2 separate regions of the Homo sapiens genome follow, and region 2 is linked to region 1. The links come from fine-mapping of genetic effects on gene expression. A gene starts in region 1. The other region holds a variant in brackets. All regions are shown on one strand. Distances are from middle to middle.

Region 1 (15,135 bases):
GCAGGGGAGGGATATTGGATTGGGACGGGGAGAGTGAGGATGGGAATGGCGGAAGAGAGAGAAAGAAATTGGAGTCATGAGTTGGCTCTAACCCTGAAGACCGTTATCTAAAATGTTTGATTACTATACACATTTTTAAAGAGAATACCTTGCAAGTAATGTGACTTTGAGCTGCAGACACAGGAGAGGGAATACGCAAAGACTGGGCCATCCAAACCTACCAACTGAAGGGTTTTGTTAATTATTTTATAGATGAAGACTGGTCAGGCACTATACAACATTATCTTTTACTGCACTCGCTTTAAATAAATTTGTAGTACTTACATAGTCAGCTTGTTGAAAATTTTCTTATGACTCTGATCTGCACTGGGTAATATAGAACGATGTTGAGAACCAAGAAGTGTTAGAACCAGGAAGGCAGTCCTTATCAACTATTTATTCCCTCTGATATGACTGTTTACCTGGGCAGCTCAGATATTATCTTCAAGATGTGTTTAAGGTGCAAATGACCCTTCTTGAATTGTTAACAACAAGAATTAGATTACATCTAATCTCATAGTGATGAGAAATAATTAATCCGGATATTTTTGGGCTGTTGTGGCAATAACAGTAATCTAAGTTGGGCACCGTGGCATGGAAGGAAAAACAGGGGGTGCAAACTGGAAGGTTCATGGGCCAACTGTGGGTTGCAGGTGGAATGTGTTTTCCTTCCAGTGTTTTAAAAGAACAGTTCTCTCCAGGTCACCATTGCCCCACCATTCACACAATACAAAGGTGCATTCACACACCTCTTCTCTCATTGCATCCTGTGTCTGACCCTAAGGCTTCTGAGTTTGAGGCCTTATAAATAAGAAAAGTCATTACATATATAAGGTAATACAGAGAAGAAAGAATCATTTATCTTGGCAAACACATAATGGGATGAAAATTACAGAAAGGCAAATTGAGTTATAAAACCCAGGGGAAAAGTCATTTCCTAGAGAAATGACTGGAATCTGGGTCCATTTTCTGAAAGGCAAAAGTAGCCTCCACATTGGTCCAGATCTGGAAAAGAAAGGATTGAGCTGCAGAGCCCATTGAGATGACGTTTAATGGGACTGTTTGTTCTGTGACTCTGGGAACAAAAATTGCAACAGAAAATATAATTATGCCAAACAATTAGCTGAAAGGCAACATGAGTTAAGTCCTTACAAAACAGGAGACAAAGATAAAGAGCATGACAAAAGCAAAAGGGTCACCTTTCCTCATGAGAGGTGATGCCTGTTTTCCCTACTCCACCCCAAAATCACCAGCAGGAAGGCGCAGAGTGGAGGTTGTCAGGAACAGGGTGAAGAGCAACCCAAGGGTATCTTTTAAAAGTCTGACGTCTCTATAAAGTTTAGTTTTAAAATAAGGTATTTAAGACCAGAAACAAGCTTGGTAACAGTAATGAGAGGACCTCCCAATAGAGAAGCAGAGGGCAAAAGACAAGCCAAGAGCTTCAGTTCCTGCTGGAGGCCTCATGACATCTCCATCATCAATTCCCCATCCTGATTCTCAGTATCCTCACCTAAGTGCATTTGGCAAACTAGGATGCTGTTGCCCCTCTAGCCTAGTTTCTGTGATTTATGTGAGCATGGGCCCGCCCCCAGATTCAAGGGGAGAGAACAAAAGTGTTTTATAATCCACAAATTCAAGTACGGGTAGAATGTTAAGTGCCAGGACTCTGGAGTCACACAGAGCTGAGTTCAATCCTAGTTCCAGCACTTACTAGCTTTAAGGACCTCAGCAAGTTACCTTATTTCCCAGGGTCTTGTTTTTCTCATCCATAGTTTGGGCATAACAGCATTTGTCTACCTCATAGGATTTAAGAACTGCTCTCTGTTAAGGCATCAAGTCCAATAGTAGGCACTCAATGAATGTGGTAATAGTTATTTAAAATAATCACCATAATGAATTTGAACATCTGTGTAAAGGGAAAGGTATCGTAGTCAGTCTACGAAAGGAGAGCTAGTGTCAGATCTCATGTCATTGCTGAATGGCTCCCTGCTTATCTCTGTCCAGTTGAATGGCTTTGCGTCAGCAGAGACTAGTAAACTAGCACCATCAAAACAAATGAGACAAGCATTTTCTAAGTGCCTGTTATTGGCGCAGCACAGTCCCTGTGCTAGACCTTAGAAAGAGGTCTCGTCAAAAGTGTGTCCACAACCACGGGAAGGAATGACTTGTAATCTATCCAAGCTAAGAGATTGAAGACTATCTTTCCTCGATGCTACATTAGAGAGGAACAGTAACAAATTGTTAGAAATTGCTTTAACATTGAAAACTGAAGTCTTAGCACACTGCCTTATCACAGTGCTGAACTATACTCCCATGCAACTTTTATTGAGCAGTGCAGGCCTAAAGATAGTTTCTCTTTGGGAGGCCAAGGTGGACGGATCATGAAGTCAGGAGATTGAGACCATCCTGGCTAACATGGCAAAACCCCGTCTCTGCTAAAAATACAAAAAATTAGCCAGGTGTGGTAGTGGGCGCCTGTAGTCTCAGCTACTCGGGAGGCTGAGGCAGAATTGCTTGAACCTAGGAGGCGGAGGTTGCAGTGAGCCGAGATGGTGCCACTGCACTCCAGCCTGGGCGACAGAGCGAGACTCCGGCTAAAAAAAAAAAAATAAAAGTTTCTTTTCTCAAGGAGGCTACCATCAAGTGCAGAGGCCTCCAAGGAGGAATGCATTCACCCCAGGATGTGGGCCAGGCAATACTCTGCGGTATGGTATGAAGATACTAGGCCTTCTATTCCTGCGTTTTAAAAAGAATTTGATTTATTTCATAACACACATACTACATTTGGTTTTGGTTTAGAGATAGAATCTCACTCTGTAGCCCAGGCTGGAGTGTAGTGGTGTGATCATAGCTCAGTGTATCCTTGAACTTCTGGGTTCAAGTTATTCCCCCCTGCCTCAGCCTCCTGAATAGCCAGGATTACAGGGGTGTACCACCACACCCAGCTAATTTTTTAGTTTTTTGCCAGACATAGGGTCCTGCTATATTGACCAGGCTGGTCTCAAACCCCTGGCTTCAAATGTCCTCCCACCTCAGCCTCCCAAAGTACTGGGATTATAGGCGTGACTCACTGTGCCCAGCCTATAATATACATACTATATGTGAAAAGTAGCACCTGTATATAATTTATAAGTAAATATAAATATTAATGAGATCAAGGTTCAAGTGGATTCTTGAGCAAAAGGTTTGAGAACTACTGGTACACAGGAGATGGAAGACCAGTAAGCCAGCAGTCAGAATCTGATGCAGAGGGAATTTGGCTAGAACACAGATGACAGGCATCCAGCTCAGCAGGGAAGGAAGAGGAGGAAGTTATAGGGAAGGCTTCCTGGAGGAGATGACATGCTGAGTTGCTGCAGAGTATTTGGGGGAGGGAATAGGGAAGAGGGAAAAAGAATGTTCCAGACAGGCTACACAATATTTGCAAAGAAAGGCAAGGTGGTTTTTGTTGAACAAGTGAGCGCATTTTGAAAACTAAATGACAGCATGCGGTGGCTCATACCTGTAATCCCAGCACTTTGGGAGGCCAAGGTGGTTGAGTCCAGGACTGCGAGTCCAGCCTGGGCAAATGGCAAAACTCCATCTCTATAAAAAAATACAAAAAATTAGCTGGGCATGGTGGCGTGCACCTGTAATCCCAGCTACCCAGGAAGCTGAAATGGGAGGATCGCTTGACTCCAGGAGGTCGAGGCTGCAGTGAGCCGTGATCGTGCCACTGTACTCCAGCCTGGGCAACAGAGTGAGATCTTATCTTAAAAAAAAAAAAAAAAAAAAAAAAAGAAGAAGAAGAAAGAAAACTAAAATGATTTGGTACATCTTGAACTGTCAGTACATGTGGGGAAACTGTAGGAGGTAAGGCTGGGATCAATTTTGGTCACTGAAAAGCAGGAAGCCTATTCTGGTAGTGAAAGTTACCACTAAGACATTCTAGCAGGGGAGATGAGATCATGGAGTATTCCCAATTTGATCTTCTAGTCCAATCTCCAGTGATACTTGTCTGAGTCCAGAGGAAACGGACTGCAATAGTGTGAGCTGGTAAAACCTCAAAAAGCTAGAACAAAAAACGTGCTAGTAGCCTTTGAAGTTATAGAAATCCTCAAGACTGTGCATTGCTGGGTGAGAATCAGTGACGTCTAAAAACACATCTTTGGGCAAAAAAGGCTGTGCAGTCTTTTACAAGCATTAGTGGCCTTAGTGGCTCCATTACAGTCAACAGCAACTGAAGTTATCATCTGAGTGAGCCAAAGCTGGAAAGAAGGGAAATAATAGATACCAGAGCAGCCAAGAGGGTAGTACACGGAGTCCAACCAAGCCACCCCTAGCAGGCCCTTAGAATAGATTGAGGAGGACTTTGCAAAGCACCTAGTGCTCTCTCACGTGAGGAGAGACTGGGCTTGTCTTATTCAAATTGTATCCCTCATATCTTGCGCAGTGGAACAGGACTGCAAGGCTGCACAGATCCCAGGGTCACTGTTCATGCAGTTGCCTATATAAATAGAGCCTTCTGGAGTTGTGTAACAGGAGCTTTGCATAGATGTTCAATCAAGATAGGTTAAAGGCAAAAATGAAACAGTAATTGCTTAGCTGCTTCTGTTAACATTATTCTAAAACTCAGGTTGGGGTGGCCTGAGCAGCAGTGGCTCCCATCAGATTTGGGTTTGGAGTTATCATCTGGGTAGTAGTGTGGCACATAATGTAGTGGAATGGATCCAGGATGCTCAATTAGAACTGCAGTGATTGGGTGGGTGTTTTACTACTTTAGTTCTGGAAAAGTCCTTCAAGGAACTGGAAATAAATGCCAAAACTACGTATACAGTCAGTAGGCAGGAGCAGCCAGGTGGAGAGCTAGGGGCTAACACTCATGAGGTCACTGGTGGCAACTAATAAGAATACCCCCATTACTCATTCTAAGGCTAGCTCTTAATCCTAGGCAAAATGAGACTGAGGGACAAAATGAGAATTAATCACCAGAGAGCAGATAAAGCTGATTCATTTCTGAGCTGGAATAAAATAAATACAGAAAACTTGGTTACATAAATATTAAACAATAAAACCTGGAATAGAAATCATCCTCCTTAGAAGAAGATGGAGCCTAAAAAGAAGGCATCCCTTTGAGCCCAAGGTTGCTGTTGGTGGAAGTGGCAGCCTTAGCATTCAAGAGCCAGGGAACATCAGACATTGTAAGCGTCCACAGACTTGCATGAGCTGAAGAAGACCAAGGTTCATGATCTGCTCCTTCGACACAGTGGTGACAATAGAAGAAATATCTAGTAAACCTGAAAAGCACCTCAAGAGGGACCTGGAAAACAATCTAAAAAGCCAGAGAAAGCTACAGTTGAAGGCAGTATAGAGTTAGATTCAAGATAGAATCTAATGTTCATATAGATCCTCTTGCATCATTAACAGATGTCCACACAGGACACAGGAAGTGCACGGTTTTGATTATCAGTGTATGCCAAAATAAACCAATTCCTGTATGTGGAGGACAGACAGCTGTATGAAGCAGGATCCTCAGTGTCTTCAGTTGGCTCCATTAGACCAGTGGATTCACACCTTCCGGCAGCTGCCCCATCTCGAGGGCACTGGACATGCTGGATTTGGGGAGACTGTTATGCGATCTCAAACCATTTGTAATGCTAAGTACCATATTATGGGGCCACTGCACATCCATACTTTGTGCCTATACATTGGGAGGCACTGGGCTCTGGGGAGAGACAGATGGTTTTCAAGAAAAGGCTCTTAAACCCAGAGAATGCTTCTTGTCTACAGCCACTGTCATATCATTCTGACTTCTCAGTTCCCTCACTTTCCCTCTCCTTTCAAATATTTTTACTTTCCAAATCAGACAGATGTTTTTTGCCAGTACAGAGGTATATCAGTCATCACCTTCTCTCTCGGATGTAATAAGTTGAATTGTTTGTTTTATATATTTTTGTAGCTTAGATGTTGACTTTATCTAAAGGGATATCCTGGAAACAAACATTTTAAAAATATAAGTACAGAAAGGTAAGCATGCTATTAGCAATTTTTAAAAAACTTTGCCTGTGGTTACTATCTATATATAATTTGTCCTTCTATTGTCTATCAATGCCTTCTAAATGCACCATGAGTACAGAGAAAAAAACTGTCTGTGTGCACCTGGGAGAACTTGCTTGATGCCCCGGCCTCAGTTTACCACATCTCCAAAACCAGTGGTTCTGACAGCCAGAGTATCTTCCAGGTCTAAGAGATCACAATCATGTATCTTATATAAAGACCGGAAATGCCTAGAGTGTACAGATTTTTAAAAAGTAGTATGAGCAGAACATCACATAAACAAAGCTTCAGTCACATATGAAGAAGTAGTAGGGTGGATTATTTTCAGGCAAAATGAACTGATTCCTTACAAAACAGTAATAATTATCCAAGGTAGAGAAAATAATTTTGTCTTAAAAACCAATATCTTGATTTACTTTGGAAGTTATTTTAGCTCACTTCATTTTTTAAAAAATCTATTTTTTTCAATTTGGTCTAGCAAGGTTTTATTTTAGGAATAGTGAAACTGACAGGAGGTAGTAGAAAGCCATGCATTAGTGAAACCCAGGCCCCTTACTTCCTTCATCTTTCACCTGCACATTTCTGGCACTTCCCATCTCGGAACTCTCTTGCCTGAACCACCTCTCCACACTCTTGGGAGTTAATAACTCCACGTAGACAATTTTTCCTCTGGAGGACAGAACTGCTACTTCTTCAAAGCTTTTGGGGCTCCCAGATGCTGCATAGTGGGGGTGCCTAACATTCATCTCTAAGGGTGGCTGTTTTGGCATCATTTTTGGCTGAAGTTTTGTATTGCATTTCCATGTCATTTGGTGTGGTGTGTGCCTGCCAGATATTCTGCCTGCTCTCAGCTGAAGGCCTTCCCAGATTGGGCAGCTGAATGTACTGCACAGCTGCCAAAATTCTAATTCAAGATCTAGAATTCTAACTCCTGCTCTTTAGACCCTTGTCTGGCCTTGGCCTCAGTCCCCTGCCAACTCGGTCCCTGGCTCATTATCAGGCCCACCAGGGCCCTGCCCCCACCCTCATTGGGCCCATGAAACCATTCTTGGCACCAAACTGAACTTCAAGACACAGCTGCCCCAGCCCCACCCAAGCCGAATCTCATCTCAGCAAGTTTGTCACCTTGTGAGCTGCAAGACAGAAGAGATGAGAAGAGAAAATGCCACCGGTGATGGTCAGATCATAAAACTTCCTGTAGCAACAGACATATTACATGTGCCTTTACTCTAAGCACTTACATGAAAAGCAAACAATCCCATTATTAGAAATAACACTAGACAGAGATGCATAGAGTTTATGGAGGGAGGAATACTATTTCTCCATGCATCTGCACCAGAGGGTAAGTGAAATTTGCCCTAAGGAAAAATGCTAAATTCAGTATGCATATATTAATATTAATAAAAAAAATGTACTGTTGGGTCATAAACTGCTGATAATGTGTAATATTTCTTAGACACCTGGAAAAGTGCTACTGGAAAATACACACTTTACAGAAGAAATATGACTGCAACTGGAGGAGGGGGTGGGGACAAGAAAGTAATTGATTCTCAGCAAAATGCTGGTTTTCAGGGAAGCTACTAAATTCACCTTAAGTGGTTACCTGGTCAACATTATGCTTTAAATGCTCACAGGATGAAATCGCTTCCTTTTTAAATGAAGAGTCACTATGTCCCTTGCCGTTGTTTCCGCTCCTTCTAGCCTTAACCAATGCACTGTCCTTTCTGCAGTGGCTGAAACGAGGATGGGTTAATTACCAGACCTGAGATGGTGGAGTGGGTGCAGTAGGGTGCTGTAATTTCGGGTGATGAAATTATTTTAGTTTTTGTTTTCCTAGAAGGAGCAGGGAGTATAAAAAACGTGGCACATATGTAAAACACAGGCAAATGCACTTGACAACCAAGCACTCTATTTTGAAATTTAAATAAAGCTAAGATTTTTTTCTGGCCTAGAGGGAAAGCTTCATTAAAATCAATTAGTTAGTACAAACCTCCGGAGAATGTGTACTTTTTCTAAAGAAGGTTTAAAGAAGAAGGTGCACACAATTACCTTTCCTGGGTCCCCTGTGAATGTGTCACACCTAGACAGGTGGCTGAGTACAAAAAAATGTCCCTGAGAGGGACCAGGGTAACTCCCTGAGTTCTCCTCGCAGGGAGGTAGGTGTAATTAATCGATGTGGGTGTATTAAGAACGTCATATACATAACCAAGGAGGCTCCAAACAGATGGCACGGATGGCAAGCCGTAAAGGGCAGGCCTAGCGAGATAAAGTTGGTGGCAGGGCTCGCAGGTGAGGCCTGGGTCCGCGCGCTGAGGTTGGGGCCGCACAGCTGTAGCCGCGCGCCCTGGTCCCTCCTCCCAGCTGCGGCGGCCTTCCCCCCCCGCCCCCGCCCCCGCCCTCCCCCCGCCGCTCCCGACGCCGCCGCCGCAGCCGCCGCCTCCCCTCTGCCTCCCGGTGGCTCCTCGCTCTCCTTCCATCTCTCTCGCCCCCTCTCCCTCCGTCCCGTCCTCGCCGCTCCCCTCACCCCGCCTCTCTCCCCCTCCCCCAGCCCCTCCTCTCCTCACCCCACCCGGCCTCCCTCCCTCCCTCGCCCGCCCGGCGCTCGCAGAGCCGACACCAGGGGGGCTCTCGATGTAGCACCATGACAGGCATCGCCGCCGCCTCCTTCTTCTCCAATACCTGCCGATTCGGGGGCTGCGGACTCCACTTCCCCACCCTGGCCGACCTCATCGAGCACATCGAGGACAACCACATCGGTAAATGGCCCGGGGGTGGGCGGGGGTGCCAGGCGCGCGGAAACTCCTGCCCGGGCGGGGAGCCCCGGAATGGCCAGGGGTGGCCGGCGGGGAGGGAGGCGGCAGGGCGGGGAGGGCGCGTGCGAGCCCCGAGGTGGGGGTGGCGGGATGCGGGGGCGCGAGGTGCCGGGGGGCGGGGAGCGGGCTCGGGTGGGGGAGGGGGCGGGCGCCCCGAGGTGCCGCGGGCGGGCGGGCGGGCGGCTGGGGGACTCAGGGGCGTGCACGCGGGCTGCGAAGTGGTGGGAGCGGGGAGCGCCGCGGCGGGGCGGCGGGGTTGCGGCGGCGGGGCCGAGTGCCGGCGCGCGGGGCGCGGGGCGGAGGGCGCGGCGGGCGGCGGGAGCTGGGCGCTGGGCAGGGTCGCGGAGTTAGTTGGCCCGGGTGGTCGGAGTAGCCCGAGGCGCTGAGGGCAGCGGGGGGCGGGCGCTGCACGCCGCCGGGCGCTTCCGCCCCGGCTCGAGCTGTCAGGGCTCGGCGGCGGCTGCAGCCGCGGGGAGGTGGAGCGGGGGGGCGGGGGTGGCTCCACCGCGGCAGCCATTCCGCTTCCTCCTCCCGCCGCCGCCGCCGCCACTGCGTCCTGTCAGCGCCGGTTGCTAGGTGTGGTGCGTCGGGAGGGGGCCGGGGCCGGCGGCCGCGGGCGGGGGCCGGGGAGCTTGCCCTCTCCCTGGGAGGCGGCCGAGGGGCCCGGGCGGGGCCGGGGACGCGGGCCCGGGGGCTCTGGGTGCCCTCCCCTGCCCCGGCCTGGCGCGGACGCCCGGGCGCTGCGGGCTGAGGTCTTGGGTGCGCCCGCGGGCCGCGCCCAGCGCCCCGGGGTCGACGCGCCCTGGAGGCCCCTGCGGCGGCGCCCGCTGGAGAGACACCCCCAGGGCCCATGGCCGGGCATTTAAATGCACCCCGGCTCTGCGATTTGCCTTTCTAATGGTGCTAGGCCCGAGGTGCGCTGGCTGCGCCCTGGGATCGGCGGCGGCCTGCGCAGCGCCCCGGGCCCGGGAGACGCCGGGGAGGGGGCGCCCCGCAGGGTGGCTGCTTTCCCTTCACGCCTGGACCCCTGGACCTTTCAACAAGTCCTCTGATTTGCAGAAGTCATTGCACACATTTTCACACTTCTATTCGGAACCCCTGCTAAGGGAGGTGGGCCGGGTGCATCTGGCTTAGGCGGTCCAACCACCTGCGGAAGGTGTGACCGACGCCAGCGAGTTGTCCTGCGTGGGCTAGAAGGTGAAGGGTCCGAGCGATGTCCCAATGGGGCTGTCTAATCCAGAGAACCTGTAAATTGCCCCCAGGAAGTCCAAATGAATGCCATGGATTCAGCCATGTGGATGCAGCTCACGTTTCTACAAAGTTGAGAGAATAAATCACGACTGCTGTGTATTTATGCAGGAATAAAATGAGGCAGAACCCTATGCTCCTTTGCTTAGTATAGTGCTGTCTCTGCACACAGTGGCTGCTTAATAAGTGTTGAATGCCTGTTTAGAATGTGATTTGATGGGCCATCCGGAATAGGAGATAATCATGGGAAACGTCTACAAAATGTCTTTCAGAGGAAAATGCTGTTGAGTAATTGTCCAGGTTTTGAAACTTTTCAAGTTTTCAGGCGTCCTTGTAATAGCTTCTTCCATTTCCTCTGCTAAAGGTATGACAGAAGAGCTGGGCAAGTTTTGGTAGTCTTAAAAGCAGTTTAATGGAGCAACCAATTTGCTGATTCATATCATGATTGAATAGTCATAACTGAAAGTGCTTGAAAGTATTAAATCAGATTTTTCATGATGGCTAGTTTAAAATAAAGCGAAAACACCGGTACTGTGAAGTTCTGGTAGAAATGTTACTAGTTCAAGTTCTTCCCCTTACTCCCAATAATAAGTAAAAAATAAATATAGATAATGCTATACATTAATATGTATGATATAAGTAATATAAATAAATAATTTCTCTTGACTTACAGAAGGCTGTCATTGCATATCCCATCCATTCTCGCTAACAGTTATTTCAGAATAAACTATAATTTATATAAGCTGAGTAATAATTTTACCCCATTGCCTACCTACTTAGACAAGCTGGTTAAAAGACAGTATAAATTATATTTATTAAAATGTGTTAAAGACAGTTATCCTTCTTGAGGATTTAGTTTGAGATGGTTTAAAACTTGGTGAATCATGAGGTTTTTTTTTTAAGTGTAGAAATTGTCTTAATATTTTGCACACATTTTTAAAGAAGGTTAAGAGTTTGATACGTTTTCTAAAACTCAGCTTTGAAGTAATGCTACCTCATTCCCAGAAGGCTAGTGTTGTCCTTTTAATAGTGAAAATGTGGAAAAATTAAGTTTACAGCAATAGCAGTGACCTAGGTGAACTGTGTTGCAGGGCTAACACAGTTGAAAACAGTTTGAACCAGCAAACTTTATGAAAAGCAAATGTTAAAATGAACAAACACTTGCAATTCCCAGGATGAAGAGGCTCAAACTATTATACACTTCTGCTGGGGAGAGGCCCTTTACTATCAAAGGCAGCCCTATATGCAGAAAGAAGAACTGATCTTAAGAAGAATAAAAATATCCCAATTAGTAGATAGTGTCATATAAATACACTTCTGATGAAAAGACATGGGTGAAAATATAAAGCATTTAGTCAAAGTTCTAGACAGGTATTGTTATGTGGTATTTATCGTTTTTGATTCAATCTATAAGTATTTGGAGACCGTTAATGATTGACTTACTGATTTCATGTCTGTTGGTGAGTGGTTACATTAAAAAGATTCATGAAAAGAATAAGAGGTGTGTTATTTTGCTTTTAATTTGTTCAACAGTCTTGTTATTTAGCAACCGTGAGTATTAGAGATATGCTTAGGTGAGCATTCCATTTTGGGGGCCTATCTGGGTTATTACCTTTAGCCACTAGTAAAAACCCTTAAACAGCGATAAAATGAATATTTATGGGAATATGGTGTGTTTCTTGCTTGGCAGATTTTTCAAGGCCTGTGTTTTTCATTATAAAAGTATTATGTTTAGTTTGGATTAATTAAGTGCATTAAGTTGAGAATAACTCTCTGTTATCTTATATGTGTATGCTTAACTTTTGTTTTTAACTGTTTTCCTCTCCCCATAATGAACAAGGATTTGGGGGCTTTAGAACCAAGGGAAGTGTGATTTTCACCACCCACTTTTTTAGCTCTTTTCTCTCCTGGAAGAGTGCTGTACCGGTGTTCCTGTTTTCTTTCTTGCATTTCACTGCTGGTTCAGTACTGGAGTACCTGTCTCAGTGTATACACTGAATATCCTAGCTAAAACTCTCCCCCATCCCCACTTAAATTTAAATTGCCGAGAAATCCCGTAGCCCTGCAACTGTGAAGTGCTTTTCCATCAATTTTGTTATCAATTCATTCATAGGTCTGAGTCTGTTACATGGAGATGGGAAAAGCAGGTCCAGGTTTGCTTGCTTCTTATTTTGAGTAGATAATTGAGTTTGTAGAAACATTCTTGGTATGAACATCCTAGATAGATGAAGTTAAACTGGTAACTGGGAATCTTAGAAACACCAGGAGCACTAAATTTAGCACTGAAGGTCATGTCCCAGGCTCATGAAATGCCGCTACAACCCTGCATCCCAGTGCTATGAAATCGTATGGCTTTTTGTCTGAGAAACACAACTGTTGAATCATTCTTATTTGATTATTTGGTGCATTTTTAAAAGTACCTCTGCATTTTGAATTTATTTATGTAATAATATATATTGAGTCCCTAGTTTATGCCAGGCAAAGTTATGAGCACTTGATATTTTTTGGTTAACAAAATGAAAATATCACTCTTTAGGAAGTTTATATTCTAGGATAGGGGGCCAGACAATAAACAATTGAGGTATGTGATACACAGTATGTTGGGAGGTGGTTAGTGATACAGAAAAGAGAAAAACTAGATCAGGGTCCGGAGGGTTGGGAGGAGAAAGTATGAGAATTTTAAATAGATTGGTCAGGGTGGGCCTTGCTGAGAGGCTGATATGGGAGACAAAACCTCGAAGGAGGTGTGAGAGTTAGTCATGAGGACATTCTGGGCGCAGGCAGTACACAGGCCCCAAGGCAGGCCTGCAGCACTTGAATAGAAACACAGGAATCTGACCCAATTCAGTTATTCATGTGATCGTACCAGACTAGCAGGTCATTTAGAACTTTCCTCAGATGTTAGGATCCTCAGCTTTGCTATTGAAACATTTCCCTGCAAGGGCCCAGTTAAGGGGCAGAGTCTCATTGACCAAGAATGGCTTGCATTAGCTATGACTTGGTTCCTGACCCCGAATATCAACAGGTTTCTTGTTGTGAGTCTCTACTTGTTAGTTTCCTCATCTCCAAAACCCAGGTAATAAACCTACAGTGCTTCATTTCATAGTATAGATTTATAAACCGTCTAATTAATAAAGGTCAAAGTTTCTGTAAAAAAAAATCAGGGCACTTACTATCAAAACTGTAGAATTTAGCTCCTAAGATGATTTAGTAAATATTTGCATTATCTTCTCAAAGGAGCATCACAGTGTACTAAATAGATAAGCTGTGCAATATGTCATAGGTCCTTATTACTCCCACTTTTAGGTGAGCAAACTAAGGTACAGTTTATAATTGCCTGAGCTTTCGTGGCTGATGTGTATGATTTGAGATTTGAATTCCAGACAGGTATGCAAAGCTAAGCCTATGCCAGTTGCCAATTAGGTGAAGAACGTGACAGTCCCCTCCTCACCTCCCCTCACACGATTGACTCTGTTTCCTCCTTTAGAAAGTAACTGAACTCGAGATGAAGGTCATCTGAGCAGTGGCATAGCGAATCCAGCCTGCTTGGAGTTGAACACACATGTCTGCCACTTGTCCCCCTTATGACCAGGGGCAAATTAACCGTACTATGCCTCCTCTGTAAAATGAGGATAGTAGCAGCATCCATCTCACGGAGTGGTTAGTGAGGATTAAGTGAGATAATATATGTGAAGTGTTTATCTACAATAATAAGTTGTCTACATCATCTAGTTTCTTGCCATTTGTGTATCTGCTAAATAAATATGTAATCCTACTGTCAGAGTCTACCTTCGAGATTAACATGGGTTGTATCCACCTATTAGTGGTGCTGTTTTGGGCATTTTATAACTATGACATCATCAGGCTCTTCCTGGGAAGGACTGAGAATGGAAAATAGGAGACTCCTCAACAGTCTAGTGCTGGTGTTGCAGCCTCTGGCCACGTTCTCTTTTGTGTGGCCAGAGGCACTTTACACCCTGGCAGAGGCATTTGCCACAGTGGACTGGGAAAGTGGTGTCAAAGCCAGCGGCTTCCAACATGGCCTTTCCTTGTGGCCTGAATTTATTTGAAAAAATCCAGGACTAGAAAGAGGCACTGTGCCTTGGGCCTGTGGGTGCATTCCATTGAGGACACTTCCTGTGGGGAGAAGGAATGACTGAATTAATAAATGAATGAATGAAAGGCTTGTTGCTGCCTGCCCTGCTCTCTGCCTGTGCCCTGTGGCTTGGCGGCAAGATCTCCCTGTTACTCCCAGGGTTCCCGAGAAGCCCCCAGGTGTAATGCTAGGAGTTTTAAATACATGTGCATACACACACACACACACACACACACACACCCACACACCCCATAGGCAGGATCAGGGAACCCGAAATCTGAAACTTTACGGCAGTCTCCAAAACTCTGTTTTCACTGGTTTTTCCATTAGCCTCTTCTCACCTGTAAACAGTCAGATCATCCTTTATAAAACATCACTGTTGAACATCCTGTCTCATAAGTTTCACAAGCTTCTAATTGTTTTCATTTAGTATACACATTTTCTGACATGTGACCGAAATGTACAGACACCAGAACTCTGCCTGTAACTGACTGGGTTGACAAAAACCCACATATTCTTCAGAAAATGGTTTCCTTTAGAGTTCATATATTTCGGAGATATCTCCTACGTTGACAGTTCTAGAAATACAAACTGACAGCTGTTTTGAGAAAACCCAATTCTTCCCGTAGGTGACAGTGAGGATACCTTAAGGCTGGCACAGGCTGGTGACACTTGATGAGGGGCTTCCCTGGGACTGTTTGGAAGCCAGAGGCCTGGTGTTGTAGACTGAGTCTGAGAGACAGGAGACAATGTTTCTGAATTCCTTAAAAATCCTCCTTTTCTAGTTTTAGCTTCTAGGGCAACAATCATACATACCCCACATTCCCTTATATTTCTCTACCCCATTCTTACCCCCGCCTTCAGATCTTGACAGTACAGACGTGTCCTGTGTACAAAGAAATA
Region 2 (15,135 bases), 58 kb before region 1:
GAGGGGGAAGCCACAACCCTGAATTTAACAGGAACACGTTCCTTTCACTGAGAAAATTATGATTTGCAATCACATTCAGCCTAACAGTCCCAGGTAGTCCCAGATAGTGTGTAAGAGTCAGGCTTCTGGACAGAGGTTTAGTAATGGGATGGATTCGTGTTTTTGGAAGCCAGTAAAACTTGAGGACGAGTTAGGAGACATGTGAAGCAAAAGCACAACCGCACCCAGCTTGCTAACAACGGCAAGATGCAGACACCGTCCACTGCCCCCACATCTATGGGCTAACTAGTTAGCTGCTAGTTGAAACTTACAGAATATTAATGAATGAATTGAGTAGTTCCTTGTAGGGACTTGGAATGTAACCGAACACTGTATGGTTGGTTCAGAGGTTAGCTTACTTGAACCAAAACAATTTGCAAATTATGTAAACTAATTCAGAGTACAGTAAAAGCCCTGTGTCCCCATCCAAAACTCCTAAATCAGCCCCTCTGTCTGGAAGTCATCTGTTTGTCAAACCTCTGGGCTGACATCTAACTCTTGCAATTTGAAAGTTGCCATAACAACCACGGGGAAAGTTTTGCTCAACAGAATATAATCCAAAAGCAATTAAAAAAAAAAAAAAAACCTTTTGAGCAGCTTCTAGAAGCCAAAGGGAATGTGAATGATGCACGCCCAACAAGTAAAATTTCTCACAGGTATAAAATCTGGGGATCACAAGGCAAGAAACAGAAAACTAGAAGGTATTGTCAAATTAACAAAGCTGGAAACGTGGCTGGCTCAGCCACCTCTCTTTATCCTGGGCACCTTACACATAAGGTGTCCAAGAAATGTTTGTTGATTTGATCTGATTGAGAGCAGTTCAAATCCTTATTTCATTTCCCAAAGAAGAATGAGCCTATCTCATTTGAGCTGGGACCCAAATGCACTAAATGGATGTGAATTTCAGAAATCCCTGTACTTGAAATGATTGGGCTTTTATCATTGTGCTCCCTCAACCACCCTTGAGTTAGTATTCGATTTGACATCAGTTCAAAAAAAACTGCTTTTGCAAAAATTAAATTCAATTAAGACAAAATAGAAAATAAAACATTTTAAAACAACTTCTTTTTGAAGTGTATCTTAGGGGAAATTCTTTCTCTGTGGGCAATGCGAATTTTCTTATTTTTCTGTGCATCATTTATTCTGTCTTGTCTGATGAGGGCCCTTAATTTTTTTTTTTTCATCTCCTATTTTTAGCTTTGTGTTTCAGGGAACCTCTCCACGTTTCAAGGGAAGGTTGTGACTAGGTCTGGCCAATCAGAAATTTTACACTGCCCTTGCCACAATGATTGGTTCAGAGTTATACACATGACCCAATCAGAACTAGTAGAGTCAATGCTGGCCGATTGGCTGAAGGAACTGAAAGAGTTCACATAATCTCATCAGGTTTATCCCTTGGATTGTGAGGGACTGTGGCATGCTGCAAATAACACTGCACCAACAGATAAAAGGACTTGAGTTTTAAACTTGGCCTTGCTTCCTGTAAGCTGTGTGGCCTTGGACAAGTCACTTGACCTCCTGGGATCTCATTCTCCTCATCTGCAAAATTCCTTGGAAGTTTCTGGGAGGATTTTATAAAGGATGCATATGTGAAGCCACTTTATATGTTATAATGCTTTACTGAAACGTCAGGCCTTGCCTTTTGTCTTCACAGCAGCCCAAACTGAAATTAGCAGGTAGGGCTGTTTGGGTTCAGTGCCCTAAAAACCAAAAACCCTGCCCAAGAAGAAGAGAATCTGAAGCCACAGAATGTCACAGCCAAAAGGGAGCTTGGAGGATATCTGGTCCAACCCCCTTCATTTCTCAGATGAGGAAACTTGCTCTATCTACACTTGAAAGGGAGGAAATGACATAAGGACAACTATTGCAACCATTCATGCGGGTTCCCCACGTTAACTTAAAGCAATCAGTTAACAAACTATGGCCTTTTAAGACAAAGACCATGCATGTGTTTCCCTAATGTGCTTATCTTTTTCTGTGGTAAACAGCGTCACCTGCAGATAAGTGACAGCTACAGAAAAAATAAATAAATAAATAAATAAATAAATAAATGGATTTACCGGACAGTTCAATTCCTCCGCACAGCTCAGCCATCTGAGTTCAAAGATGGAAGGAAAAGAGATTTGCAGTTGAAAAAATTGCTGAGCCATGTGTCTGAAATGCGTTAAATAATTGCAATAGGGATTTTATTTGTGTTTTTTCGTTTTCCCTGTTGGTGAGAGCCACTCCTGCCAACAAATTATTTGCCAAATGGTGACTTCATTTATGATGCCGGTAACGTGATGTTTAACAGCTGACATGTGACCAGTACTTCAAAAAAACTGTGTCCCTTAGCTTACATGGCAACTGAAGTGTTGCAAAAATTCAGAGATCCACATGTAAAATTCAAGAATTTAATATGAGTAAGAGTTATTGAAAGTCACATCTGGTCAATTTTTCCTCATTTATTTATGTATTATTTTATTATTATTACTTTTTTAGAGACAAAGTCTTGCTCTGTTGCCCAGGCTGGAGTGCAGTGGTATGATCATAGCTCACTGTATACCTCAAATTCCTAGGCTCAAGAGATCCTCCTGCCTCAGCCTGCTGAGTAACTAGGACTACGGGTCTGCACCACTGTGCCCAGCTAAATTATTTTTAAAGATTATACTAATAAAAACCTCTAGTACTCATTACGTACAAAAAGCAGTTTATGTATATTAAATAATTTAATCCTTCCCTTTCTGGAAAACTGGGACTAACTCTATGAGGTAGGGGCTGTTTTTATCATCCACAGGTTTGAAGTGAGGCCCAGAAAAGTTGAGTAACTTTCCCAAATTCTCATAGCAGGAAGATAGTAGAGCTGGGATTTGAACCTAGGAACTTGGCTCTATGGTCAGAATGCTTAACCACTCTATTATATTGATCTTTTTGTGATAATCTTGCACATAGAATACCTTGTATTTTCTTTAAAAAATAACTTGTATATGAAATTAAAATGAATTAAAATAACTGTTCAAATTTATCTTTCTAGAACACTTTTTTAATGACAGCATCAAGAAAAAGCAGAGTAAGAATGCAAAATTTGGAGCCAGGTCACTTGAGTTGAGGCAACTGACTAGTAGCTGTTATGACCCTGGGATAAGTGCCTGAAACTCCTTATGCCTCAGTTTCTTTGTCTGTAAAATAGGGATAAGAGTGGTACCTAAATCCTAGAGTGTTTGCTGGAGAGTTAGTGAGATAGAAAGGGAAATAGTTTATGTAAAGTGCATAGCCCAGTGTCTGGCACATAAAATATGCTCAATAAATATCACCCAGTATCAGTATCCCTATTATCAATACCATTATTACCTTGAGTATTAGACACCACTTCAGTTCTGCTTTTGCTCCTCCCAGCTTTACCTGTCTCCCCTCCCCACCTCTCAACCCCTGCAGTCCACTTCCGCATAGGCTCCAATCTGCTTCTCACATCTGCCACCCAGCTGTGCTCCTGTCATCTCCTGCCCTGGGACATCTCTGTTGACCTCAATGCATGAGACTCCAGGGGAAATTTCTTCATACCCAAGCATATGCAACCCAGAGTGCTAGGCAACGAGCCCTCTAAGAGTCAAAACTTGAAGTCTTTCTTTTTCCCTGTCAAAGAACGTATGAGTTGGCTAGAGTTGCTATAACAAAGCACGATAGACTGGTGACTTAAACAACAGAAATTTATTTTATCGTACTTCTGGAGGCTGGGAGTCCAAGATCAAGGTGTCAGCAGGTTGGTTTCTTCTGAGGTCTCTCTTCTTGGCTTGCAGATGACCGCCTTCCTGCTATGGCCTCACCTGGCCTTTCCTCTGTGAACATGCATCCTTGATGTCTCTGTGTGTGTACAAATTTTCTGTTCCTAAAAGGACACTAGTCAGATTAAAACAGGGCCCATTCTATCAGGCTCACTTATCTTAATCACTTCTTTACAGGCCCTATCTCCAAATGCTGTCACATTCTCAGATACTGAGGGTTAGGAATTCACCATATGAATCCTGGAGAAACACAATTCAACCCATGACAGAGGGTCCCAGGCTACAATTCATTAGGCTCCTCACAAGGTCCTGATGGGCAGAACAACCAGTTGACTGTAGTGGCTGACTTACCCGTCTTTCCTGGTTTACAACCCTACTCCTCTTTGGGATCATACTCACCAATAAAGACTTCATACATAGGCTTGCTCTCAAGCCCTTCTTTCTGAAGAATTGGGACTAAGGCATCTAATGGAAATTCTGGATGATGTCCTACTGCAGGGTCAACCAGACCTGTCAAATGTGGCCCCAGCCGTCCTTTCTGCTCTCACTGCCCCATCTGCACAGGGCTTGGCCTGTGCTCACCACACCAGACTCTGCATGTTCCCTTGCCCTCCTGGGACACAGAGTCCTCACCTGTAAATGACAGGGCTGGGTCCCTTCCTCCCTTCCAATTGTATAAGAAAGACATGCTCCACCTTCCTATGAGTGACCTTGTTCACTCTCCTGGAGATGAGTTATGATCTCCATAGAATTCTAAATAAGAAAATATTCCAGGCAAATTGAAAAAGAAAAAAAAAAGATGTCCTAGATTTACACAAAAAGGAGGCAGACAAACCACACAGTAGTTCAAAAGCTCTCTAAATTAGTGCTCCAGCACTATATGGGAAAGTTAACAGATATGGAGCTGGCCAATCCCAGATTTTAATTAAAACCCATCTTTTAGGCCAGGTGTCGAGGCTCACACCTGTAATCCCAGCACTTTGGGAGGCCAAGGCAGGCAGATCACCTGAGGTCAAGAGTTGGAGATCAGCCTGGCCAATATGGTGAAACTCCATCTCTACTAAAAATACAAAAATCAGCTGGGCATTGTGGTGCATGCCTGTAATCCCAGCTACTCAGGAGGCTGAGGCATGAGAATTGCTTGAACCTAGGAGGCATAGGTTGCAGTGAGCCAAGTTCACTCCACTGCACTCCAGCCTGGGTGACAGAGGGAGGCTCGGTCTCAAAAAAAAAAAAAAAAAATTAATTTTAAATTTTTTTTAAAAAATCTTTTATTAGTCAAAATATGACTAGTATGGCCACCCAGCCAAAAGAGAGAACTAGCTTAATACAAATGTGCTCTCACACACATACACACAAACATGTACTTCTTAGCATTTTGTTATTTTATTCTATGTGGAAGCAGCAGTATGTGGATGCAAATGGATTTTTCAAGTATTTCTCTTGGCATTATGGCCATATTTAATGTAACATCCAGTAAAGCAGAAATTTTAATTAAGTTTATGGCCTGACTATCTGTATTTGTTTGGAATTTCTGTCTCTTCAAAGCAAAATGTGAACCTGGCTTTAGACCTGGAAATATCTCAGGCTGCAACCAAAAACATTATCAACAAACGGCAAATGTGTGGTCTGAAATATAAAATAAGTTTAGAAGAAGTTGAAGCCTATTATCCAAATATCACAAAATACCTGGATATTAATTATGTAGTCACTAACTTATTTGGATATGCTTCAGGGAAGATGAAAAGAAAATTTTATATATTTTCAAGGGGAGAAAAAAACTATCTCAGCATCAATAAACTACCAAAGAGCCATTTAAATGCATTTTATTTATGTCTCTGGGTTTTGATGTGGTTTTCCTTTTAATCTTAATTTCTTTGCATTTTATAAATGAATAAAGCCTATGTACAATTCATATTTAAATGTTTTAGTTAATCTGGAGGTTTATTTTCTTTAAGAGAGTACAAAGTCACTAATGAGTACCAAATAAGAATAGTGAATGTGACCAATATAAATTAGTAAGAAGCATTTGTGTGAACTTGGAAGCAATAACAAAACACTTAAAATAATCTCTACTGTGTAATATAGGCATAACTTGGACCTGCCATCTCTTGTCTGCCTTTGGGGGGATGAATTGAGCTGCCCATAATTCAACTTTGTATTCTCTGTGAAGTATTTGTTACGCGAATTAAAGGTGCAAATAGATGTCCAATTTGAAACGGAAAATCTGGATGGAAACCCTGAAACAGCATTGCTAAACTCCCTACTTAAATTCATATGAAGGCAAAAATTCACAATGCTAAAAACAAGTACAGTCAACTCACTGCCAGAATCTGGTAGGCCTTCTCAATTCTTGTCTCCAGAAAAAGAAACTGTCTACCCAGGTAGAAATGCCTTTATCTTTTCACCACCACTGTCTTGCTGCATGAATTCAAGTTGAAAGACCAGTACAAGTCCTAGACCAGGCAGAAAAATAGAAACTCTGTCCTCTTATAGTACTGCTGCTTTTTGAGGTAGTCAGGGCCCTGTCTCTCCCACTAAACTCTCCCGTTTCCAAACTAATTATCTTCTCCCAAACTTGTCCATTATATATACTCATAAATTTACTCATGCCACTGATTGCCATGCCAGGCACTGTTCTAGAAGCTAGGAATACAGCAATAAACAACAACAACAGCAACAACAATATAGACTGCTCTGGTGAAGCTTATCCTCAGGCAGGGCACAAAGCAGTAGATTTTCCGTTCAGAGACTCATGCTCTGAGAAAATAGCTCTGCACAAGGTAAGAGTGAGATGGGAATAGAATATTGCACATGGGGAGATGTGGTATCCACAAGAAAAGTGCTGTAGTGGGAACAGGAAAATCCCATTTTCGTGTGTTCCACCCATGCTGAGTGATAAAGCCCAGGAACTGAGACTTACTTAATACAGTCCGGCAAAGCAGAACTGGATAAAAGCCTGCTAGACAACAGGGAGATAAACCTGTTCTATGTCAGGTAGGATAAACCACAGCAGAGTGAGAGGGACAGGGAATGCAGGGGTAAGGGGTGGGAGTGAGGACAGGGTAGTTGGGGAAGGCCTTCTTGAGGAGGTGACGTGTGAGCAGAGCCCTGAAGTAGGTAAGGAAGTGAGCCACGTGGACATGTGGAGAAGAGCTGCCCAAGCCTGTGCAAGGGCGTCAGCCTTCACCCGGTTGCCTCTGCTCCTGTAGGAACTCTTGGTTTGTTTAGTCAAGGCCAGTTGTTTCTGCCAACAGCATCTCCACAACACATCTTCCTGCTTCTGTACTCCAAAACCTTCTTTAATACAAACGTCCCCAATCCCTGGGCAATAGACTTCACGGCTCACCTTCACGGTAGAAGGGCTGCAAGAGAAAGGGGGAAAACAAACTGGATCACACAGAAAGTAAGTATAGTTGAGGGGTTTACAAAACAAGTATCCACAATATATATATTCTAGAAAAATTATTAAACTAAAAATTAAAATAAGAAGAACAAAAGGTTCTATAAAAGGATGCAAATCAGGTTTTGCTCAGTCTTGACATCTATAATAGTAAGTTTCAGAAGACAATAAAGACTTTAGGGAAAGGGTCATGACACCAGAATGCATGCATATGTATGTGTGTGTGTGTGTATGCACACACACACATATACGAAGACAATAGTAAGTCATTCTCAAGTTTGTGACATCTCAGAAAGTGAATCATCACAGTA[C/T]CTTGAGGAAATTTCTAGAAAATATATGCAGACGACCAAGACATAGATGACAAGTAAGACCTCCAGAAGAGGAAGTTGTAGCTAACAGGCCAGAGGAATCCTCGTGTACTCAGGCTGGGACCTAGAATCAAGAGCTCCAGCCGAATGCCCACGTCGGGGGCCACGCATGGCCCTGCACTGCTTCCTTCACCACCGCCTCTCCTGCAGCTCTCTCTCCGCTTTCCAGTGCCAGGAAATGGGCTTGTTGCACCATATCCTTCAACTCTCAGTTCAGAGGAAATCTTCTGCATGTTTAGTGGCCACTTAAAGCTGTAATTAATAGTGTTCTCTTCCAGTGCTTGCTAACATTGGCTATGTGGGTCACACTGTTAAGAAACTGAACCAGGAGAATTACTTTCAAAAGGTATTTTCCCTGCACAAAAGTAGAATGACATAGTGCAACATAATCGTCCTTTTTTTTCTGCCATGGAACATAAGTGATGGCTTTCTGCACCTTTAAAAGTCATACTGAGAGTCCTGAGTCATTGAGGTTTAATTGGGAAAGACTACTAAACCACCAATAACAGATATGATCTGCAACTGAGCCTCTTGAAACTCTTTCTTACAAGATCTGTGCATATTAACAAAACTTTAATCCAGCATAAACACAACTATGTGTTTAAAAAAAAGGAATTATAAGAAAATGCACCCAGATGTTAAAGGAAGGAAGGGATAGTTTCTCTGGGAGGTAGACTTTTTATTTATTTATTTATTTATTTATTTATTTATTTATTTATTTATTTATTTATTTATTTGAGACAGAGTCTCTCTCTATTGGCCAGGCTGGAGTGCAGTGGCACGATCTTGACTCACTGCAACCTCTGCCTCCCCGGCTCAAGCAATTCTCCTGCCTCAGCCTCCCGAGTAGCTGGGATTATAGGGGTGTGCCACCATGCCTAGCTAATTTTTTTATTTTTAGTAGAGGTGGGGTTTCACCATGTTGGCCAGGCTGGTCTTGAACTCCTGACCTCAGGTAATCCACCCACCTCGGCCTCCCAAATTGTTGGGATTATAGGTGTGAGCCACCGTGCCCAGCCTCTGGGAGGTAGACTTCTAAGTGATATTTTTCCTGCTTTATATAGTTAGCAGATATTTTAAAAACAGATTTTTAAGAAACCAGCCTATGCAATTGCACATATACCATGAAATTGCAACTGTTTAAAAATCAATACAGATGCTTCTCAATTTACGATGGGGCTACGTCCCAATAAACTCATTCTTAAGTTGAAAATATCATAAGGTGAAGATGCATTTAATACACCTAACCTCCAGAACATCATAGTTTAAACTTGTCTCCCTTAAACATGTCCAGAATATTTACGTTAGCCTACAGTTGGGCAAAATCATCTAACACAAAGCCTATTTTATAATAAAGTGTAGAATATCTCATGTAATATATTAAATACTGTACTGAGAATTGTTGGGTGGATACTTGGAGTATGGTTTCTACTAAATGCATTTCATTTTTGTACCAATGTACAAAAAGTGAAAAATTGTAGGTCAAACCTTCATAAAGTGGCAACTGTTTGTATGTCAGAAGAAGAAAATAAATCACAATGTATATGTAAGTGAAACTATTGATAATCTTTTTTTTCCTTCTCTTCATTTTTATTTTCTAAATTTTCAATAGGAGCATACATTACATCTGTAATTGAAAGAAATTTTTCTTAAAGTAAGATGGTGAGTGATTTGAGCATGCTTCAAGAGAGCAAACAGGCTGCTATTTGGATGCCAATCAAGTGATTGCTAATTACAAACAATTCTCATTTTCATCAAGTCAATCAGGCAGTTTTTACTTATACTTCAAGTAGAAGCCAATGTTTTTAGTTGCAAAGAACTGAATTGCTTCTGTGATAGAGTTCAAACTGCATATGCCCGTTCTTTGAAGACATTAGTAAAGCTCTATAAATCTTTAATCCAAATTTAAAAGGATTTTCTATAGGGGAGAAGGATAACAGACCATCAGTGGTAACCTCAAGGTGGATTGAGTAGTCAGATCTGTGTCGCTCCAGGCAAACTCCGCCAGGTCCACAGCAGGAGTGCGGACCCTTTGTGTAGCTCACCTCATACAACCCAGTCCAATTTTGGATGCCAGCTCATTCCTTAATTCCCTTCAGACCTCAGGATCTAAAGTTAGAAAGCCCATAAAGATAGGACACTTGTCTGCCATGCTAACTTCAGTATCCTAGAATATGGGAGGTGCTCTTCAATTTGTGGAACTGAAAAATCTGTTCAAGTGCCCAACTTTACTGAAGGATTGGAAATAACAAAAAAGAATAAAAGATCAAAGAATAACAAAGACCTTCACACTGGATGTGACTGCCAGCAGAATCATAAGAGGAGCCCTTCCAGAGGAAAGTGGCCTACTAGCACTTTCTCCTTCATCCCTGGCCTGCGCCCACCACTTTGCAGTGGCCAGCGCCTTCCCCAGCAAGAGCCCCTAGACCAGTTGTCTTCTCCCAGAGCCCAGGCCCCAACCAATGTTTGAAGGAAAACTTCACTGCTCACAAACTTCTGCCTTCCAGGATGGCCAACCACCCAGGAAGCCCTGACATTCAGGAAGGCCCCACCTCCTATTGCGAAAAGGACAAGGCATCCGAATTCAAGCTGACAGTAGCATCTTTTTCACATTTTGAAACATCTGGTATAAAAAAACACCAAGAGGGAACTGCGCACAGAACTGAAGGTGCTGGGCTCTGGAACTACCAGGCCCACCTCTGTGTTCCGTTCACATTAGCAAAGAGAAACTAGACTCCTTCATCCTTTGTTCATGCCCACCTCAGCTCTAGCCCTCCTGGCGTAATGATTTGGTTCTTTGGGAACCAAAAGAATATCCAGATTCGTAGCAGCCCAAATCTATATTAAGAACAAGAAGCATTTCCTTAAAGAAACACATTGCCAAGATTTCACTTCACAATGAAAACGGCCTTTACTTTACTTTGCCAATCAATTTAGTTGTTCATTGTCTTAAATCCTTCCACTTTGGAAAGGAGTTTTGCTTTCCATTTACATTACCAAATACCACATTAAAGAGACTCTCAAACACTGTGTTCTCAAAGTGGAAATCAAGGCACTCTCTCTCCAGCCCTGTTTCTCCAAGTTTGCCCACAGCTGCCCTGCCTCGGAATGACCTATGGAACTTTTTAAAAATGCAGATTCCCAAAGATCTTCTGAATCAGAATTTCATAGGAATGGGCCCCAGAATGTGCATTTAAAAACAAATTTCCTGAGGAAAAAGCTACCTGGCTTACATGTTTCCTGTTCATTGTGATAAATAAATGAACATTTAAAGGTGGGGAGGAGTTTCTTGAGTAATTCTAATGCAAACTAAAGACCCCACTGTTTTGCTCTAGAAAAACAAACTGAAGTTTAAAAAAAAGTCTGCTTTTGCCGGCCCGGTGGCTCACATCTATAATCCCAGCACTGTGGGAGGCCAAGGCGGGTGGATCACTTGAGCTCATGAGTTTGAGACCAGCCTGGTCAACATGGTGAAACCCCATCTCTACAAAAAATACAAAAATTAGCCGGGGTGGTGGTGCATTCCTGTAGTCCCAGACACTCGGGAGGCTGAAGCATGAGAATCGGTTGAGCCTGGGAAACGGAGGTTGCAGTGAGCCAAAAGGGCACCACTGCACTCCAGCCTGGGTGACAGAGGGAGATCCTGTCTCAAAAACAAAAACAAAAACAAAAACAAAACAAAGTCTGCTTTTCCCACTCTCCCTTCCATGATTTTCCATCGGTATTCCAAATTATTGGGGTTCAGACTCAGCTGAAAATCCTGTTGTACCTCATTTTACGGATAGGAAAATGCATTCAGGAAGTGCGCATATGCAGAATTTGCAAGCACTTTTGTGGTCTGACTTCATGATGGCATAAGCTCATGTGGTCCATGTACTTTACATACATTATCATATTTAATCCCATAAATAGAAAAAATCTTATAGATGTCATTGTTCCCACTTTGTAGTTGGAGAAACTGAGGCTCAGGAATAATTTGAACCCAGGTATGTTCTTTCATCCAGAGTTTGGGCTTTCCCTACTACACCCAGATGCCTGTCATCCACCCACCAATGTTTAACTAGTTTTCTCTTATTTTTGTTCTAGAGTTATTTTATATCTGGACTTTTCTCCTGCCCAGATATATTCTATATGCTAATTAATACCTTAAATTACATATGTAGAGCTATCCCTTTGATTTAAAGATTTGTTTTCTGCTAAATTCACCCTTTTGACTTTCGCTAAAATTCACGTTTTATTATTCTTTGGACATTAATACTTGATCAGTTCCTGAAAACCTTTTAACAAGGAAAGGATGGCACAAGTATGAGATGCTGGATGCAGAGGGTGGGAAGGAGATATCTCGTCACTCCAGGGAGAGGCAACAATGATCAGCGACCGTTACCTTCACAGTTTTACCCATGACCAGCTTGCCCTGGGAGCCTATATGGATCTTTTAGGATCCATGGTCACTGACAACAGTCCTGTTATGCCCTTAGCTGAGTTTTTCAGAGGATCTTTATGTATAAAATGGCAAGGGAAAATATTAATTGCCTGGAGAGGGACTAAGAATACAATTAACATCCATTAAAGTAAGTATGTTTGTTATTCACACTACATCTTCGTTTTATGCCATAAAAATGAGATGCATTTGGGTTGTGAGTCAATCTGGCAAATCAATTTTATGAGCTTTTCCTTATAAGTTAGGCCAGTAGCAGGCCCTTCATTGTTCAAAAAGGAAATGACACAAAGAGTTGGTTTAACAGCTGAGAAGGCAATGGAAGACCAGAAGAGCAAGTAGAGGTCTGGGCATTTGCCTCTTTCTTTCCTTATTTCCATTGGAGTATGGTTTTTAATTGCAAGCTCTATGAGGCTAGGGATGGTGTCTGTCTGGTTCACTGCATTATCTCTGGTGCCTAGCACTACAACGAGACCAGAGAAGGTGATTAGTCAACATTTGTGACAAATGTTGAATTAAAGCCTTTCAGAAATCCCATGTTGGCTTTGTTACACTGATTTTGTGTTTTCTAATTTCTTGCGTGCGATAGAATTCAATGCAGTACGAATGTCTTAAGTTACTAAATACCCGAGCACATATGCAAGATTTCAAACATTATTTTTTTGTCGTTAAAGATATGACTAGGAAAAAAAGTAATCAAATAGAAATATGATAGTTTAGAACAGTGTTGAAGGATCAAATCAATCCAAATTCAAAAATATCACAATGTTTGTTACTATTTTTCTCTTTCCTTTTGTTCTGGAATAATATTGCTTTGCTCCAGAAACAATGAATCATTTGTCATCTGCGTTATGCTCTCTTCCAAATAAAATAGCTATGTAGAATGGACTTATAGACAAAAGCCTTCTTGAGTCTGAAGACATGAGGATAATATATTTAAGACTGGTGATTAATAGCAGTTATAGAAATGCCTTAAGTTTTAAAGTCTAAAGAACTCAATTTTTAGAGTGCTGCAAGTTTGTTTTGTTTATATGAATTATAAATATGGAAAAACATTATTTCTTTGGGTAGAGATATTAAAGTAAAGTAGCTTTGTTTTGTTTTCTAAGTATGTACTATTCAGGGCTATTGGATACGGAGTCATAAGCAATCTATTTACTTATTGTGGTTCATGCTAGTCTTACAGGAATCGTTGATACTTCGGCATTGGAATGAGAGAATTATAGAATAATAAAGTTAAAGGCCAGGCATGGTGGCTCATGCCTGTAATCCCAGCACTTTGGGAGGCTGAGGTGGGCAGATTGAGCCCAGAAGTTAGAGACCACCTTGGGCAACATTGTGAGATCCCTATCTCTACAAAAAATACAAGAAATTAGCCAGGCATGGTGGCGTGCACCTGTAGTCCCAGCTACTCATAAGGGCGAGGTGGGAGGATCACTTGAGCCTGGCAGGTGGAGGCTGCAGTGAGCTGTGTTCGCCCCACTGCACTCCAGCCTGAGTGAGAGAATGAGAACTTGTCTGAAAAAAAGGAAAGAAAGGAAGAAAGAGAGAGAGAGAAAGGAAAAGAAAGAAAAGAGGAAGGAAGGAAGGAAGGAAGGAAGGAAGGAAAGAAGGGAGGGAGGGAGGGAAGGAGAGAAGGAGGGAAGGAATGGAGGAAGGAAGAAAGGAAGGAAGGAAGGAAGGAAGGAAGGAAGGAAGGAAGGCAGGCAGGCAGGCAGGCTAGAAAAGACTTCGAAAGATCATAAGGTGTGGGCTTTGTTGATACACATATTCTAGGCTAGGCAATCTGTTCGAAAGTCTTAGAAATAGGCATGCCCTCTGACCCAGTAATTCTACTTCAAGGAATTTATCAGAGGTATAAAGATATATATACAAATATGTACATCATGGCCCTATTTGTAATAGCATGAAATTGAAAACAGACCTAGGTGTGCAACAGTGGAAGATTAGAAAATACTCTATGGTATATCTAATACTTTGCAACCACTAAAGTAGCATTTGTTTACATGGAAAATGTTCACCATTTATTGTTAAGTAAACATAAAAAGCTGAGAAGGAGACAAAGTATAGTTGGTATGATGCCATTTTAGTAAGTTTAAAACTGTGTGTTTTTATATGTGTGCATGCACATGTCCATGAAAACTGCCAAAACATTAATACTGCTTGGATTAGACATCTCTGGGGCCTTACAGCCCCTCAGCCGTCCATTTTACTTCAGTCATTGCTGTGGAAAGCAGCTACACAGGTGTAAACTGACAGCCTATTGCCTCGGCTGGGAGGAGGTCCTCTCAGCCCTGTGGGTTGTCTGCAGAAACCATCTCAGCCTTCTGATGTCTGTGCAAATTTAGAAGAACAAGGGAGTTCATGCCCTGTGGGGTGACCCTTGACTAAAAGAAGATGGGAGCCAGTGGATCAATATTTCAAGTGATATGCCAATAAACTTTAACAACCAGCTGTCTAACAAAAATAGCCCTGATATGTGGCTTTCACCAATTTCCACGGTGTAAACACTCCCACTGTGGTCAATTTCAAGCTACCAACCTGATGTCACTGAGCACAAAGTTGGCACGACATATGCACAACAGGCCATGCCAAGCTGGGCAAGCAGGTTCCAACACACCATTGAATATATTCACCTCTTCCATCTCTCTCTTATCTCTCTCTCTCCCTCTCTTTCTCTCTTTCTCTCTCTCTCTCTCTTTTTAGAGACAGGATCTCACTCTGTCACCCAGGCTGGAGTGCATGGCATGATCACAGCTCACTGCAGCCTCGACCTTCCATCTCTTCAATGGACAATCTGAAGCTCATTCTACAGTGAGACTAAGCCTTAGTTACCCAGAGTGGTGAACGATTTGATAATACACTTTTGAATGGCCTTTCCCTCCTTCCCTGCTTCCCTTTCTCTAGCCCTCCACTCCCATTCCCTGGGATCACTTCCCAAAAGACAATCTGCACATGAACCCTTGTCCCAGGGTCTTTCTGGGGAAACCGAAGTAAGACAGAGGTTATTTTGGGATATGACAACTCTGGATAATTTAGATTTTTTTTTATGTGTGCTTTTAAAATATTGTCCATTTCTGGTCTGGGCTCAGTGACTCATGCCTGTAATCCCAGCACTTTGGGAGG

Evidence for each region.
Region 2: its variant is fine-mapped to the expression of JAZF1-AS1 in whole blood (TOPMed, PIP above 0.99).

Annotation. Positions count from the first base shown.
Region 1 is chr7:28,174,159-28,189,293 of GRCh38, reverse strand. JAZF1-AS1 (JAZF1 antisense RNA 1) reads right to left here and starts at 8,837. Exons shown (of 4, transcript NR_034097.1): 1 at 8,755-8,837; 2 at 3,542-3,624. JAZF1 (JAZF zinc finger 1) reads left to right here and starts at 8,499. Exons shown (of 5, transcript NM_175061.4): 1 at 8,499-8,831. The coding sequence starts at 8,717. RefSeq lists silencers at 1,938-2,138, 9,305-9,424 and enhancers at 9,279-9,778, 9,779-10,280.
Region 2 is chr7:28,232,487-28,247,621 of GRCh38, reverse strand. It overlaps JAZF1-AS1 (JAZF1 antisense RNA 1), which reads right to left. Exons shown (of 4, transcript NR_034097.1): 4 at 6,245-7,165. Among named protein-coding and RNA genes, the nearest start is that of JAZF1, 59 kb to the right of the region's middle. The variant C/T (reference allele first, on the strand shown) is at 7,515.